Regions from separate parts of the Homo sapiens genome. Here region 1 is linked to region 2. Evidence: fine-mapped expression QTL. Tissue or cell type: macrophages. Region 2 holds a variant in brackets; the other region holds the start of a gene. All regions are shown on one strand. Distances are between the middles of the regions.

Region 1 (8,000 bases), 220 kb after region 2:
CAGCCTGGCAGACACACCAGCAGCTCTGCATCTTCCTCCAGCCCTTCCTCCTCCTCCTCCTCCTCCACATCCCGCATACAGTCTGCCGCCAACTTCTCGATGTGGGCCATGGGCAGGGGGGCTGGGGGAAAAAGGTCACAACAAGTCAGCACAACTCAGATAAGTTCAGGGATGAGTAAAGGAGGGGCTTGGTAGATCCACCCAGGCAGAAATCCCTCTTCCCTCCCACAGCAGAGTCCCACCTGGAAAACTGCTCTTCCTTTAAGACCCAGTTCAAAAGACCCTCAACAGGGAAACCTTCCTTGGCCCCCCACCAAGCAACAAGCTGCTCCTTTCTCTGCACCTCTGCCTACGGTAGCCTGACATAGACATGGCCATCCACTCTCTCCAACCTCCAACAACACCTTTCACATCTGTAAAGATTTTCAAAGTCCAACAGAGCTTCAAAACAAATCTGCAAGATGGATAATATCCCCTTTTCATATATTGAATAAACTGAGAAACTTCCAACATTAATTTTCCTATCACTGCAATCCTTAAGTGGCAGAGCTAGGATTCAAACCTAGGCTTGTGCCACCCCAAGGCAGGAGCAGTGAGCCCCTTCCTAGGTCCTCCCATTATCCTCAACTCAGGGACACACAGGATGGTGGGGGATGAGTGGGGGGATTCTCTGAGGGTTCCCGGTGAAAAGAGAGGACGATTTAGACCTCCTGATCCTCCCAGGCCTGAAGTCTCTGTTCTCATCTGGGCTGTGGAGGGAGATTCCACTTAACTCGCTGGACACAATTTCTATGTACTTCCTATGTACCCAGTTCAGTCTGTGCTAACTGGGCCCCTACCCTACACCAATACCGTGGCTAGGGCTAAGGATGGGGACCTGAGTCAGTCTGAGAAACACATTTGTCCACAATGGGGAGGGGCCAGCCCAGGCCATGACACAAGGTGGGGAAGCAGGGCGAGGCCGCCTCTTGGTGGGAGTGCGGCAGATGGGTATTGGAAGGACCAGGGGATCTGGCTGGCTCCGTCCAGCTGCAAGGGAACCCCTCTACCACCAGCCTGTGCCCATCTTGTCCCAGCACCAAGACCAGCCCTGTGTCCAAACTCACCCTGCCCCTTGGGTGCTGGCTTCTTGCCTGTGGTTTGTGCTTCCCCTGTGAGAGCCAGCAGCTCAGCCTCCAGGTCCTCATCATCTTCAGCCTCATCCATGCCCAGCAGCATGTCCTCAGGGCCAAACTCCATAAAGAGCCCCATCTGAGAGCAGAGCAGGACTCTTAGGAACCACACAACAAGCAGGGTAGGGTCCAGCTCCAGAGCCAGACTTGGGGCTCTCCAAGTCCCAATCAGTGGCTCCTTCAGTCTGTGAGGCCCAATGTGCAGAAAGAAACTGAGGCCTGCAACATTACTCCTTGAGACACTTACCTTCCTAGGGACTCAACAAAAAACCCAGTAAGACCACACTGAAACTGAGACAGTCTTGTGAGTCAGAATTTAAAACACACTACCATTATTACAACCAACAGCAATAGCTGCCATCATGCACTGTTCTTAGCGTTCTATGTGATTATCTTAACCACCTCAGTTAATTCTCACAATTCTGAGAAGAAGGTCCTATTTTTTGGCCAGGCGCGGTGGCTCACGCCTGTAATCCCAGCACTTTGGGAGGCCGAGGCGGGTGGATCACGAGGTCAGGAGATGGAGACCATCCTGGCTAACACGGTGAAACCCCGTCTCTACTAAAAAATGCAAAAAATTAGCCGGGCGCGGTGGCGGGCGCCTGTAGTCCCAGCTACTCGGGAGGCTGAGGCAGGAGAATGGCGTGAACCCGGGAGATGGAGCTTGCAGTGAGCCAAGATGGCGCCACTGCACTCCAGCCTGGGCGACACAGCGAGACTCCGTCTCAAAAAAAAAAAAAAAAAAGAAGGTCCTATTTTTTTAAACTCTGGTAAAACACATACAACATGAAATTTACCATCTTAACCACTGTTAAGGGTGAGTTCAATGGCATAAGGACATTCACAATATCCTGCTACCATCGCCATCATCCATCCACAGAACTGTTTTCATGTTGTGAAACAAACTTTCTACCCATTAAACATTAACCCCCCTTCCTCCCCTCCTTCCAGCCTCTGGTAAGCACCATTCTTCTGTTTCCATGAATATGACTACTCTAGGTAGAGGTACATCCTTTTTTTTTTTTTTTTCTGAGACAGAGTCTGGCTCTGTCGCCCAGGCTAGAGTGCAGTGGCACTATCTTGGCTCACTGCAACCTCTGCCTCCCGGGTCTAAGCGATTCTCCTGCCTCAGCCTCCCAAGAAGCTGGGAATACAGGCACATGCCACCACGCCCAGCTAATTTTTGTATTTTTAGTAGAGATGGGGTTTCACTATGTTGGCCAGGCTGGTCTCAAACTCCTGACCTCAGGTGATCCACCCACCTCGGCCTCCCAAAGTGCTGGGATTACAGGCGTGATCCACGGCACCCAGCTTACATTCTGTTTTTATCCCAATGTTCAGATGAAACTGAGACAGTCTTGTGAGACAATCAGAATTTAAAACAAGCTCTTTGCGACTTGAGTCTATGCCCTTTACCCCACCTCCTTTCTTACCTGCCTTTTTAAAGACAGTAAAAATGGACTAAGAAGTCTCAAGATGTAGGCCCAGAAGAAATAAAGGAAGAAAATTGGAGAGGAGACCCCCCTGTTCTTCCACTTGGGGCACAGCCATCTGTCCCTAGGCAGTGAAGTCCTCCCACTGACTACAGCCCTCATGCCCTGGCATCCCTGGCTAACAAGCAAAGTTGTGACCCTATCTAAGGAACCTTTGAGAGCACTGAGGTCCCATCAGAACATCCTAAACTTTGGTGATTCCTGAACCCTCTCCCCACTTGTATGTGGAAGAGACTAGTAGGAGGGTGTCTAAGGGCTCTGCCACCTCCAGGAGGCACTGCTCCAAGTCTCTGAACTAATGGGGGAACTACATGTGATCCAGTTTGCCTAAGTTGTCTAGGGACCCCCATCCCCAAACCGACCCAGTAGCCTAGAAGGCTAAGTTCCATACCTGCTTGGCAGCGGCCACCCCTTGGCCTCTGGCCTGAGGGCCCTTCCGAGGTCTTGGCCCTGGCATCATGGCAGCCTAGATACCTATGGAAGAGTTACAGAGATTCAGGCTGGAGTAGCCCATAAGCCACGCCCCCAACAGTGCTACCCGTGGTAAGGTGTGGATAGTAAACTCCCAAAGAAGGCAATGCTGAACACCAAAGTATGGGTTACCTTTAATTAAAGCACTGAAGCAGCACAGGCCATGGGAGGGATGGGGATCACCTGTTAATGGGTTTACTGAGGAATGTTCTGAACGGACTCAAATTTAAAAAGCACATTCAGGGAAGTACTCTAGGTTCAGGGTGGGTGGAAGGCTGGGTAGAATTCAGAAAGGCTCTAAAGCTGTGCTTATGGAAGCCACAGCTGGCTATTTAATTTTAAATTTCAATGAATTAAAATGAAATAAAGCTAAAAATCCAGTCCATCAGCCACAACAGACACATTCCAAGTGCTTAACAGCCATATGTGGTGAGGGGCTATGACCAGACAGCACACACACAGAACATTTTCATCATCCAAGGACATGTCATCAAAGTTCCATCTCACAGCTGAGCTCTGGAGAAAGCTGGCTCAGCATTCTGATTCCCATAAAGATCTCACAGTTATTCACAGGACCTCCTGTGTCAGACCTTGCGCTGGGCACTGGGAGCGCAGAAATGAACCTAAGACGGTCTCAGCCTTCAATGACCATTTACAGGGTGGAGGTGGACTACACGGGGTTGCCCCAGGGGCCATGGGTGCCCTGAGGTGACCCCTTCTTCAGCCCTGGGAGAAAAGGCTCCTCCTTCGAGGCGGTGACGCCTGAGCTGAGTCACGCAAAGAAGTTGGGGGAAAGAGGGAAATAGGATTCCAAGACGAGGGAACACTTGACGGCTCTGAAGTGGGGAGCAGCTTGGCCTGTACAATGGAACCTGAGGCCTGGTATGACTGGGGCATAAGCGGTGAGGCCTGAATGCACAAGCCGAGGTGGAAATGTGAGCAAGCGGCAGAATATGAAAACCTCTAAGCCGAAAAGCGTTTGGGCATTATTCTGAGGGCGCTGGGAAAGAAGTGGCGGGATCGTATCGGTGTTTCAGAAACCCCATTCTGGCACCAAAGGGGAGGTGCACAGAAGGTAGGGGGAAAAGGCAGGAAGCCGGCGCATCTCGCCACAGCGCTGGCGGGGAGACCAGCTGACGGGCGTGGAGGCGGCGGGGAGCGGGCGGAGGAGCTGGCGGGCGCTCCGGGGGACTCTGAGTGTCAGATTTCGGGAGTGACTCCGGCTCAGGTGAAAGCGAGGCCAGACACTCCAAGGCTGCGGCCCCGATGACACAGCCAGGCCTCACGGAAGGTGGGCAACGGAGTCCGTAGGGGGAGGCGACACGGGACCCCCACTCCCGCGCTGCGGGACGCGCCGCCCTGCCCCGCCCGCGCCGCCTCCATCTACCCCCGCGGTCCCCAGAACTCCCCACGCCGAGGGGCGGGGACGCGGCATACCTCGCGGTGAATCCGAGCCAAACCCCGGCCTTGTCTCACCCGGCACCGCCCTGGGCTCCCGCGGGCCCTGGGCCGCAGCGGTAGCGACAGGAAGCGCCAGCAGGGGAGGTGGCTCGCGCGCAACACGTGACCCCACTGGCCGGCGGCCGGCAGTGCGCATGTGCACGGCTACGCGGGCGGGGGGCTCCAACAGGTGACACCGGGGCGGGGTTCGCAGCGCGCAGGCGCGTTCGGGTAGGTAGCGCAGGACAGGAACTCTGGGCGGTTCCGCCGGGGCGTCCACCGGCCGGCTCCAATGAGGTCGCTGCGCCCAGCCCTCGCCCACTTGCAGCCTCTCCACCGAACCTCCTCCCTCACTCAGCCCGAGGCGCTGGGCGCTCGCTCGCTCGCTGGACCTACCCCGCCTCCAGCCCTCGCCCCGCCCCACCGAGCAAGAGGGCGGGGCCTACCCAAGCTCCGCCCTGGAAGAGAGACAGGGGCGGGGCTCACCTGCTTGTCCATGTCCTTTAAGCCTGGGGAAATGGAAATGGGGCCCACCATATGTTTCTTAATAATTCAGCACCTGAAAGTATCCTTTTCCGGTCCGTTGAAAACTTCAGACAGGCAGAGCTCGCTGCACATCTTAAATACTTTACAGAGTCTAACACTAAGTTCTCACTCGCCTACCCTGCTGTGCAATCAAATGGCATGGAGGATATTAAGGAGAGAAACGGAGTATACCCGTTTTCTGCCAAGCTTGTGTCAGTCACTTTTCATAATGGAGCTTATACCAGTTCTCAATCCTGCAAGATGGACATCATCTCTAGAAGAAACGGAGGCTCAGAGAGAATTATTTGCCCAGGGAAATACAAAACCAACCTCTTTAGCATCAGTAAATATGCTCTAGTCTAGTTTTCTAAGGAAAGCACGTTTCTCCCTGCGGCTTGCAGAGTCCAGTTAACAAGAGATTGAGCTCAGGAGTCCGAGACCAGCCTGGGCAACATGGCGAAACCCTGTCTCTACAAAAAATTACAAATATTAGCCGGGTGTGGTGGTGCGTGCCTGTAGTCCTACCTACTGAGAGGCCGAGGCAGGAGAATCGCTGTGGCCCCGGAGGTCCAAGCTGCAATGAGCTGTCAACTGCACTCCAACCCGGGTGACAAGGTGAGACCCTGTCTCAAACTAAAACAAACAAAAAAACCGAGAGCGGAGTAATGGGGAAGTGGCCAGATTCCCATCTAAAGTAACCACTTCGATTTTGGGGGGAAAGAGAACGGCTTAAAAGGAAAATTTGATATGGGAAGCATGCAAGAATTGTACAGAGTACAACGTCTGTGTGTCTTGTTCTGGTGGCTATCTTGGGTCCCAGCCTACCTGGAGCGTGGGCTGGTCTCATCTCCACAATGGCCCCGCTGTTGACTAGCCACCTTGAAGTAATCTTTGGAATTTTGCAGCTGTGTCTCCAGGCTTGGTTTGTCTGTCTCAAGATTAGCCCTTGGAACTTCTCAGAAGGCAGATAATTAAATACTAGCATACAGTAAGATAAATGTGAAGGGAGTATATACAGTGAGAAAGGGAGGGATATGGGGTCTATTTTACAGCTAAGGGAAAAGGCTTTTGCAGTTTGCTTCAAGGTTGTATCTTGAAACCCAAGAGAAAGGAAAAAAAGTTTTAAAATGTATTTTAAAGTTAAACTGCTGGATTAGTTTCTTCTGTCTAAAACATTGCCATCTCCTCTCCTGCCTATGCCTTGAACTTTTAAATTATGTTTTCTAGTTAGCGATCTCCCAGTTTACTTGGACAAAGGGCTTTTCCATCTCCTGATTGCTTACTTTTTTTCTTTTTTTTTTTTTTGAGACAGGATCTCATTCTGTCACCCAGGCTAGAGTGCAGTGGTGCGATCTCCACTCACTGCAACCTGCACCTCCCAGGCTCAAGCAATCCTCTCACCTCAGCCTCTTGAGTAGCTGGGACCACAGGCACGTGCCACCATGCCCAGCATTTTTTTTTTTTTTTTTGTAGAAACATGTTTTTGCTATGTGCCCAGGCTGATCTCAAACTCCTGAGCTCAGGGGATCAACCCACATCAGCCTCCCAAAGTGCTGGGATTACAGGCGTGAGCCACCATGCCCTGCCCATTACCATATTTAAATTGAGATTTCACATCCATATTTCTCATTCCTTTTAAAATTATTTAAAAATTTTTATAATGAAACATTTAAGATATAAACAAAGATACACAATATTTAACATTTACTAGAATGCAAGCTCCAGAAGGAGAAATTTTTTTATTGCTTCTCCAAGTGTCTCGTGTCTACAGCAGTGCATGGTACATAGTAGGCACTCAATAGTTCCTTGTTGTGTGAATTAACTACATGGACATCTATTACCAGTTTAAGGGAAAAAAAAAAGCAGGTGAGCGGGCGCGTCCCCGCGACCGCGCTGCCTCCCCGAGGCGGTTCACGTAAAGCCAGCGAGGCCCTGCCTGCCAGCCGGGAAGGAGGCGTGGTTATGGAGCTGGCGGCTGCAACCCCGGGGCCCGCGCCGCTGCCTAGCGCTTCCCGGGGGCTCTTTGGGGACGCGCCCCCCGCCGCGGCTCGGGGACCCGTAGAGCCCGGCGCTGCGCGGTTGGCCCTTCTCCCGCGCCCCGCGCTCACCCTCCTGCTCCTCCTCATGGCCGCTGTTATCAGGTGCCTGGAGCAGGCCTAGACCACCGACTGGAGGGCCACCCTGAAGACCATCCGGAACGGCGTTCATAAGATAGACACGTACCTGAACGCCGCCTTGGACCTCCTGGGAGGCGAGGACGGTCTCTGCCAGTATAAATGCAGTGACGGATCTAAGCCTTTCCCACGTTATGGTTATAAACCCTCCCCACCGAATGGATGTGGCTCTCCACTGTTTGGCGTTCATCTTAACATTGGTATCCCTTCCCTGACAAAGTGTTGCAACTAACACGACAGGTGCTATGAGAACTGTGGCAAAAGCAAGAATGACTGTGATGAGAAATTCCAGTATTGCCTCTCCAAGATCTGCCGAGAAGTACAGAAAACACTAGGACTAACTTAGCATGTTCAGGCATGTGAAACAACAATGGAGCTCTTGTTTGACAGTGTTATACATTTAGGTTGTAAACCATATCTGGACAGCCAACGAGCCACATGCAGGTGTCATTATGAAGAAAAAACCGATATTTAAAGGAGATGCTGACAGCTGGTGACAGATGAAGACGGAAGAACATAACCTTTGACAAATAACTAATGTTTTTACAACATAAAACTATCTGATTTTTGTGAAAAAAGAAAAACAAACATAGTTGGAGCTACCTGTACATCTCCCATATTGCAACACCTCCCTTTCCCAAAGATGTACCCATTATCCTAAATTTAGTGTTTATTATTCCTGAGCATTTCTATTTCTGTGTAGGTATCCTTAAGCAATACATAGT
Region 2 (8,263 bases):
TGGTGCCCACCTGTAGCCCCAGCTACTCGGGAGGCTGAGGCACAAGAATCATTTGAACCTGGGAGGCAGACGTTGCAGTGAGCCAAGATTGGGCCACTGACTCTAGCCTGGGCAACAGAGCGAGACTCCATCTCAAAAAAAAAAAGTTGAATACAGTTCTCAGTGTGTCCCTCAAGACCACCAACATTAGAATCAGTTGAGAGTGCTTGTTATATATATAAGTATTATATGTAATATGCAGATTCTTGGTCCCTTGAATTGAAATTCTAGGGATGACGATGGCCCAAAGAACTTTATTTTTATCAGTCTCCCTGATTCTTAGACCTACTAAAGTTTGAGAATCACTGATACAGTAAGTTTAAAATTAACTAACCTTGCTGAGCCGAAGGAAGGTGTCTATTTTCTAGCAAAACTATAAGTCTTTAGTGGCAATAGTCATTTCTTTCTTTTTTTTTTTTTTTTACTTCCTTGCAGCTCCAGCTCAAAGGATGTCATTTTTCGTAGTAAATAATCTTAGAAAGAAAAGTGATATTTTGAGGGACAGCTGATCCAATCAGCAACCATTTATTGAGAGCCTCCTGTGATAGCTGTGGTGTGCTAAAAGAATACCTTGTCATTTACTTTGGCACTTAATGGACACCAATGTCATTGTCTGTAAAATGCATATACTTCAGTTATTATGCTTACCTTGCGAGGCTTTTAGGATAAATAAATCTGAAAAGGTATTATAATCTGTAAAAGATTTTTATACAATTTTGGCTTTTAAGTGCCAGGTCCTGTTATAGGTATTCCAGGAAACACAAAAATGACCAAGGGCTCTACTAAACTTGTCCTGTGGAAGCAGGATACCTTTAATTAACTGTTACAAGGTAGGTCAGACAAGTGTTGAAATTGAGTGGAACGTGCTAAATCTCTGTTTAAGGCTTCTGTGTCTCATCTTGCCGTTTAAGGACATTGATAATACTTTTTATGTATGATTATTCCTTTCTCTTCCAATTCCTGATTCAGTGTTTTCTTTAAGGAAATAATTGCTTATATTGCCTGGTGATAGTTTCCTATTAACTCTTTTAGAAAGGTAGAGTGAGTAGAGATGATAATTCCTTCCTCTGTTGCTAAGCTACCACTGTTCATTCCATTCAGTAAACTTTTATGTGGCACCTTGTAAACGTGCTAGCCACAGACTGGTTGCAAGGCACAAAGCTTGTTTAAAAGATAATTGCCTGGATTTTAGCTTAAGTTCTTATGTTCCTAAAGATATGGCGTATATATGTGTGTTTTATGGTTGTTAATTGCATAATGTGGTACAGAGTATGGAGTCAGATGTGAGCAGGAATCCTTACTACACCTCTTAAAGCGATGTGACATTTAGATTCTGAGTTTCTTATGTACTATTGGGGTAACACTACCCCTCCTAGCAAAGTAGAACAGGTTCCATGAGATAAAAGTAACCGAAAGCAATTAGCTCAGTGTTTGTCATGTAGGAGGTGCTCAATAAATGTACATTTCTTTCTTCCTTTTGGGAAAAACAAAAATCAGGCATTGGGATTTCTGCATGACTTAAAACTTGGTTGCTTTATTTTTTTTAGACTAAGTCTACTTTTGGGATTTGGAATTTTTTATGGAAAACAATTTCGATTTTAGTATGTTTTCCATTTCATTTTTAGCCAATAAATTAGTATTCCCTTTATATAGGGTACACTTGTTGCAAATTATTTATTTTCAGAGTTTTACATTGATCTTTAATTTTACTTGTGTATACTTGACCTGCATTATATAGAGCAACATTCTTAGTACAGTCAGATCTCTGTATCTGTGGGTCCTCCCAGCCAAGGCTCAAAAATATCCACACACACACACACACACACACACACACAAAAGTAATCATACAATAATAAAAATAATACAAATAAAAACCCAATACAGTATAACAGTTGATTTGCATAGCACTTACAATTGTATTTGGCATTGTAAGTAGTCTAGAGATTATTTAAAGTATACAGGAGGATGTTCATAGGTTATATGCAAATACTGTGCCATTTTATATAAGGGATTTGAGCATCCACAGATTGTGGTATCCTGTGGGTTCCTGGAACCAGTCCTCCACAGATACAGAGAGACAACTGTATATAATAATCATTGGAAAAGATGTAGTTGCAGGCACTGAATAGAAATAGTTCATATATTTAGTTTTCAAAAAACTCTCAATTTATTAAATTTACTTAAGAACTGTTTTCAGAACATAGATTTTTCCTTATAAACTACAGTAGGCTAGAACTAGATTTTATAGCCTGCCAGTCTTTTCTTATAACCTTGGACAAGTTTGTTACCCTCTTTAAGTCTCAATTTTCTTTTCTATAAAATGCAACTGATAATAGTCACCTTACAGGATTATTGTAAGTATTAAATGATATAATGGGTAAATCAGAGCTATAGTTCAGTCCCATGAGTCCTGGTAAATCCGGACTCTGGAATTGGAAAATATATTTCTCTGAGTTTTGAAAAAAAGAGGTTGAAAGATTGTTAATTATTTATGTAGTTTACTATTAATAAGTAAAATCAGCATAATCTAATTTTGAAGTATTAGAGATTGCTAAATTAAGGAGGAACCAAGGTGTCAGTAGAATTAGCATTTAGTTATGTAGTAGAATACCTTATATTTTATAATGGTAAAATTTATTTAATAAAATAATTTGAAAAGTGCTGTTTTTACAGGTTGAGCATCCCTAATCCAAAAGTCTGAAATTCGAAATGCTCAAAGGTCCAAAACTTTTTGAGCACTGACATGATCTCACAAGTGGAAAAATTCCACGCCTGATCTCATGTGATGGGTCACAATCAAAATGGTCAAAACTTTGTTTCATGTACAAAATTATTAAAAATAGTGTATAAAGTTACCTTTAGGCTATGCGTATAAGTATACATGAAACAAATGAATTTTGTGTTTAGACTTGCGTCAGAATTCTAATCTGTCCCAAATGCTTCTGGTTCCAAGTATTTTAGATAAGGGATACTCAACGCATAAAGTATTTTCTATTTTACAAATTAATTAATACTTATATTTTTCTTTTAAATTATGGTAAATAGCCCATTTACGGAACTGGAAAAGTTAGAACAGTATTATATATTCACAGAGTTGTGCAAACATCACTGCTGTCTAATTTTAGAACATTTTAATCACTCCAAAGAGAAACTTGTACCCATTAACAGTCACTCCCAGGATCTCCCTAATCCTCCCAGCCCTAGGCAACCGCTAATGTACTTTCTGCCTCTATGGATTTGCCTATCGAGACATTTCATGTAAGTGGAATCATACGATATATGACTGGTTTCTCTTACTTAGCATAATAGTTTTAGGGTTCAGTAGCAAGTGTCAGTACTTCATTTCTTTTTATTGCTGAATAATATTCCATTGTATGGAAATACCACATTTTATTCATCAGTTAGGGCTGTTTCCACTTTTTGGCTACTATAAATAATGTTGTTGTGAACATTCATGTGCAAATTATTGTGTGGAAATATGCTTTCATTTCTCTTGGGTATTTATAGGGATGGAATTGCTGGGCCAAATGGTAGCTGTATGTTTAACCTTTCGAGAAACTATCAGATTGTTTTTACAAAGTAGCTGCACCTTTTTACAATCCCACCTGCGTTGTATGAAGGTTCCAATTTCTTCACGTCCTCACCAACACTTGTTATCTGTTTTTTTGATTATAACCATCCTAATGAGTGTGAAGTGGTAATGTAAGGCTCTATCTGCGGTTCATAACTTTTTTTTTTTCAATAGAGGCGAGGTTTCATTATGTTGGCTAGGCTGGTCTGGAGCTACTAACCTCAAATGATCCACCCACAGCCTCCCAAAGTGCTGGGATTACAGGCATGAGCCACCATGCTCCTGGTTAATAACTTTTATTTACAGTCATTAGGTAAATTGTTGAAGCTTTTACTTGCAGATGCATTGCCAGATTCTTTGATGATAGGGAATGTTTTTGGCCTGAGGATAAAAGTTGTAGGCCAGGCGCTGTGGCTCACGCCTGTAATCCCAGCACTTTGGGAGGCTGAGGTGGGCCGATCGCCTGAGGTCAGGAGTTCGAGACCAGCCTGGCCAATATGGTGAAACTCTGTCTCTCCTGAAAATACAAGCCTTTCGGTTCAAAATCACCACTATATGGTGGCAGATACCTGTAATCCCAGCTACTTGGGAGGCTGAGACAGGAGAATTGCTTGAACCAGGGAGGCGGAGGTTGCAGTGAGCCAAGACTGCACCATTGCACTCCAGCCTGGGCAAGAAGAGCGAAACTCCATCTCAAAAACAAAAAAAGCTGTAAACTTTCTAGTTTCCTGTTTAGTAAACAGTGAACTCTGGTTAATAGAACTGATTAACCACATTGGGTGGTGATAGGAATGGTGGTGTGAGGACTTCAGCTGTATAAAAGGCTGTCTTCTATTAATATGAATATTTCTTTCTTTTTTTTTTTTGAGATGGAGTCTTGCTCTGTTGCCCAGGCTGGAGTGCGGTGGCGCAGTCTTGGCTCACTGCAACCTCTGTCTCCCAGATTCAAGCGATCCTCCTGCCTCAACCTCCCTGGTAGCGGGGACTACAGGTGCGCGCCACCATGCCTGGATAAGTTTTGTAATTTTAGTAGCGACGGGATTTCACCATGTTGGCCAGGCCGGTCTCAAACTGACCTCAAGTGATCTGCCTGCCTTGGCCTCCCAAAGTGCTGGGATTACAGGAATGAGCCACTGTTCCCAGCCTTAACATG[ATTTTTTTTTTTTTT/A]TTTTTTTTTTTTTTTTTTTTTGAGATAGACTCTCGCTCTGTCAACCAGGCTAGAGTGCAGTAGTGTGATCTTGGCTCACTGTAACCTCCACCTCCCAGTTCAAACAATTCTCCTGACCCAGCCTCTCGAGTAGCTGTTACTACAGGCGCCTGTCACTATGCACCGCTAATTTTTGTATTTTGAGTAGAGATGGGGTTTTGCCGTGTTGACCAGGCTGATCTTGAACATGTAGAATGAAGGTCTAAAACTTGCACTTTGTTTACTCAAACAATGGTTCCCTGTAGTATTTCCTAACTGGTTTGAAAAAAAACTTTAGAAACATTAGCAAGTAATTATTGCTGACTTTGAACTATGTCCTAAAAAACCTCATAGGAAGGCTTTAATACCTTGAATGAGTGCTGGGATTACAGACGTGAGCCACCGCGCCTGGGCAATATGAATATTTCTTAAGAAAAGGCAATTGTAATGCCTGAGTTTAGTTTTTCTTTAACTCTACTGAAACATTTCTAAAAATTTACAGTCTAGTTTCATATTAACATTTCTAGGCAGTCAGGCATGACAGATTTTAAGAATTGCCGTTACCTCTCAATGATACATAATTTTATATAAATACAAATGTCATTGTTTGTCTTGTATGTAGAATATTACCCGATGTTTTGGTTACTCATTCAAGGTATGCCCTGCCACCACGCGTGGCTAATTTTTGTATTTTTAGTAGAGACGGGGTTTCACTATCTTGGCCAGGCTGGTCTTGAACTCCTGACCTCGTGATCCACCTGCTTTGGCCTCCCAAAGTGCTGGGATTACAGGTGTGAGCCACTGCCCGGCCTGTAGTGGTGATTTTAAGCTGAAAGGCTTGTTCTGGTTTATTATACAATCTTTTAGTTCCTTTGGATGATATAGTTTCCGTATAAAGTTACAAAAACAGTAGTTCTGGAGCCTTTCTGGTAGGATTAATGAAAAGATATGCATTTCTGTTTGCAATATAGTTTGGTTCTTTTCTAACCTTTCATGATTAAAGTTTGCTGTTTATCTGTGAGATTTCATTTTATTAAAATGAAGAAAGAGTAAATTGTACATATTTTTATATGTTACATAGCCCAACAGAGTCTATCTCAAAATTCTCTTTACTAAAATAAACTGACTGGTGTGGTGGCATGTGCGTCTAGTCTCAGTTACTTGGGAGGCTGAGGCGGGAAGATTGCCTGAGCCCAGGAGTTCTGGGCTGTAGTGTGCTATGCTGATCAGTGTTTGCACTAAGTTTGGCATCAGTATGGTGACCTCCTGAGAGGGGGTGACCTCCTGGAAGTCGGAGACCACCAGGTTGCCTAAGGAGGGGTGAACTGGCCCAGGCTGGGAATGGAGCAGCTCAAAACTCCCATGCTGATCAGTAGTGGGATCATGTCTGAGAATAGCCACCCCACTCCAGCCTGGGCAACATAGTGAGACCTAATCTCTAAATAGATAGATAGATAGATGATAGATGATAGCTAGATAGATAGCTAGATAGATGAGATATATAGGGCCAGGCACGGTGGCTCATGCCTGTAATCCCAACGCTTTGGGAGGCCGAGGTGGATGGATCGCTTGAGGTCAGGAATTCAAGATCAGCCTGGCCAACATTGTGAAACCCTGTCTCTACTAAAAATACAAAAATTGGCTGGGCGTGGCGTTGGGCCCCTGTAATCTCAGTTACTCAGGAGGCTGAGGCAGGAGAATCGCTTGAACCTGGGAACCCGGAGGGGAGGTGCAGTGAGCCGAGATCACGCCACTGCACGCCAGCCTGGGCAACAGGGGAACATACTGTCTTAAAAAAAAAAAAAAAGAAGAAAAGATAGAACAAGCAATGTCAAAATTTTGTAAAAACACCCTGTCAGGATTTATACAAACTTTAATCTCCATTTTTCATTTTCAGTTGAGCAGGAGAAACAGTCCCTAAAAGGTAATTAAAATAAAACACTGCCAGTTTGAAACTTGAACTTCACAGTACATCATGTAGGCCTTTTTGTGATTCTGGTGATAATTGTCTTTTTTTTTTTTTTTTTAGTAGTAGTAGCCGAGGTAAATTATTTTTGAAGTTATTGTGAGGTCACTCATGGAAATTTCTGCTCAGTGTTTAAAAAGCAAGGTTGAGATTCTTTAACCTGGCATACAGCCTTCATGATTTGGTTCCAAGCTGATCATTCCTCCCTCCTGTTTTTGCATCCTGTTCTTCCAAGATTCCAGGTTTATGGAGTTTTCCTTGATTCTTTTACCTTGTATTACTTTTTGTGGAATATAAAAGCTTTCCCTGTAGTGTGCCATCTTTCTGGTAAGTGTTTCACATATGTTATTTGTAACTCTTACTAAGGATATTATAAGGTCATTATATTATTATGCATTTTACAGCTGAGGGAACTGAGGCTTGGAGAGTTTTATTGATTTTCCTAAGCTTAAGCCCACATTGATGATTCAAACTTATATATCAAGCTCATATATCTCTGACTAGAAAGTCCACACTCTTTTTTCATCCTGTGAATCTTGTCCTGTGTCTATGTGTGTGTGTATGTGTGTTTTTTCTTTTTTTTTTTTTGAGATGGGGTCTCGCTCTGTCATCCAGGCTGGAGTGCAGTGGTGTGGTCTCGGCTCACTGCAACCTCTGCCTCCCGGGTTCAAGCAATTCTCCTGCCTCAGCCTCCCGAGTAGCTGGGACTACAGGCACCCACCACTACACCTGGCTAATTTTTTGTATTTTTAGTAGAGACAAGGTTTCACCATGTTGGTCAGGCTGGTCTGGAACTCCTGACCTCAAGTGATCCACCCGCCTCGGCCTCCCAAAGTGCTGGGATTAGAGACATGAGCCACCTCTCTGAGCCCATCCAGGATTTCTAAAGTATGTTCCCTAGGAGCAAGGAGATGTTCTTTAGTCAAATAAGTTTGGGTTTTCAGCTTACTATATATCCCTTAGGTAGAAGTTTGCAAATGCACGTTAGTATTCTAAAGACTGAGGAGTGGAAGAAACTTGTTTAACTTTGTTCAGCTATGTATTACCCCAATTTTTTTTTTGAGATGGAGTTTTGCTCTTGTTACCCAGGCTGGAGTGCAGTGGCACCATCTTGGTTAACTGCAACCTCCGCCTTCCAGGTTCAAATAATTCTCCTGCCTCAGCCTCCTGATTAGCTGGGATTACAGGCATGCACCACCATGTCTGGCTAATTTTTGTATTTTTAGTAGAGATGGGATTTCACCATGTTGGCCAGGCTGATCTCGAACTCCTGACCTCAGATGATCCACCTGCCTCAGCCTCCTAAAGTACTGGGATTACAGGCATGAGCCAGTGTGCCTGGCTATATTACCCAAACTTATTTGGTTGTGGAACCCCTTTTTTCCACGTAGGCCTTAGTAATTAATACCCTTTACTGATGTAGGTCAACTTTTACCTGTTTTTTAAAGTCTCACCCTCACCGTATCCGAGACTTTGAACTCTCAGATGATAGGCCCTGATT

Direction of the effects. Positions count from the first base shown, and alleles are read on the strand shown. Sizes are in standard deviations (SD) of each study's normalised expression.
As copies of ATTTTTTTTTTTTTT replace A in region 2, the expression in macrophages of the gene that starts at base 4,710 in region 1 goes up (large effect, 1.8 SD a copy in Nedelec 2016).

The links. PIP is the estimated chance that this variant, and not a neighbour inherited with it, causes the effect.
Region 1: it holds the start of CC2D1B, and the variant in region 2 is fine-mapped to the expression of CC2D1B in macrophages (Nedelec 2016, PIP 0.91).

What each region holds. Positions count from the first base shown.
Region 1 is chr1:52,361,496-52,369,495 of GRCh38, forward strand. CC2D1B (coiled-coil and C2 domain containing 1B) reads right to left here and starts at 4,710. Exons shown (of 25, transcript NM_001330585.2): 1 at 4,574-4,710; 2 at 3,057-3,139; 3 at 1,107-1,251; 4 at 18-121. The coding sequence starts at 3,125. It also overlaps the pseudogene PLA2G12AP1. RefSeq lists silencers at 4,310-4,419, 4,460-5,089, 7,072-7,171, 7,232-7,311 and an enhancer at 6,902-6,951.
Region 2 is chr1:52,144,184-52,152,446 of GRCh38, forward strand. All of the region lies in intron 1 of ZFYVE9 (zinc finger FYVE-type containing 9), which reads left to right. All of the region lies in intron 4 of LOC107984956 (collagen alpha-2(I) chain-like), which reads left to right. It also overlaps the pseudogene RN7SL788P. Among named protein-coding and RNA genes, the nearest start is that of ZFYVE9, 6.2 kb to the left of the region's middle. RefSeq lists an enhancer at 3,678-4,211. The variant ATTTTTTTTTTTTTT/A (reference allele first, on the strand shown) is at 4,764.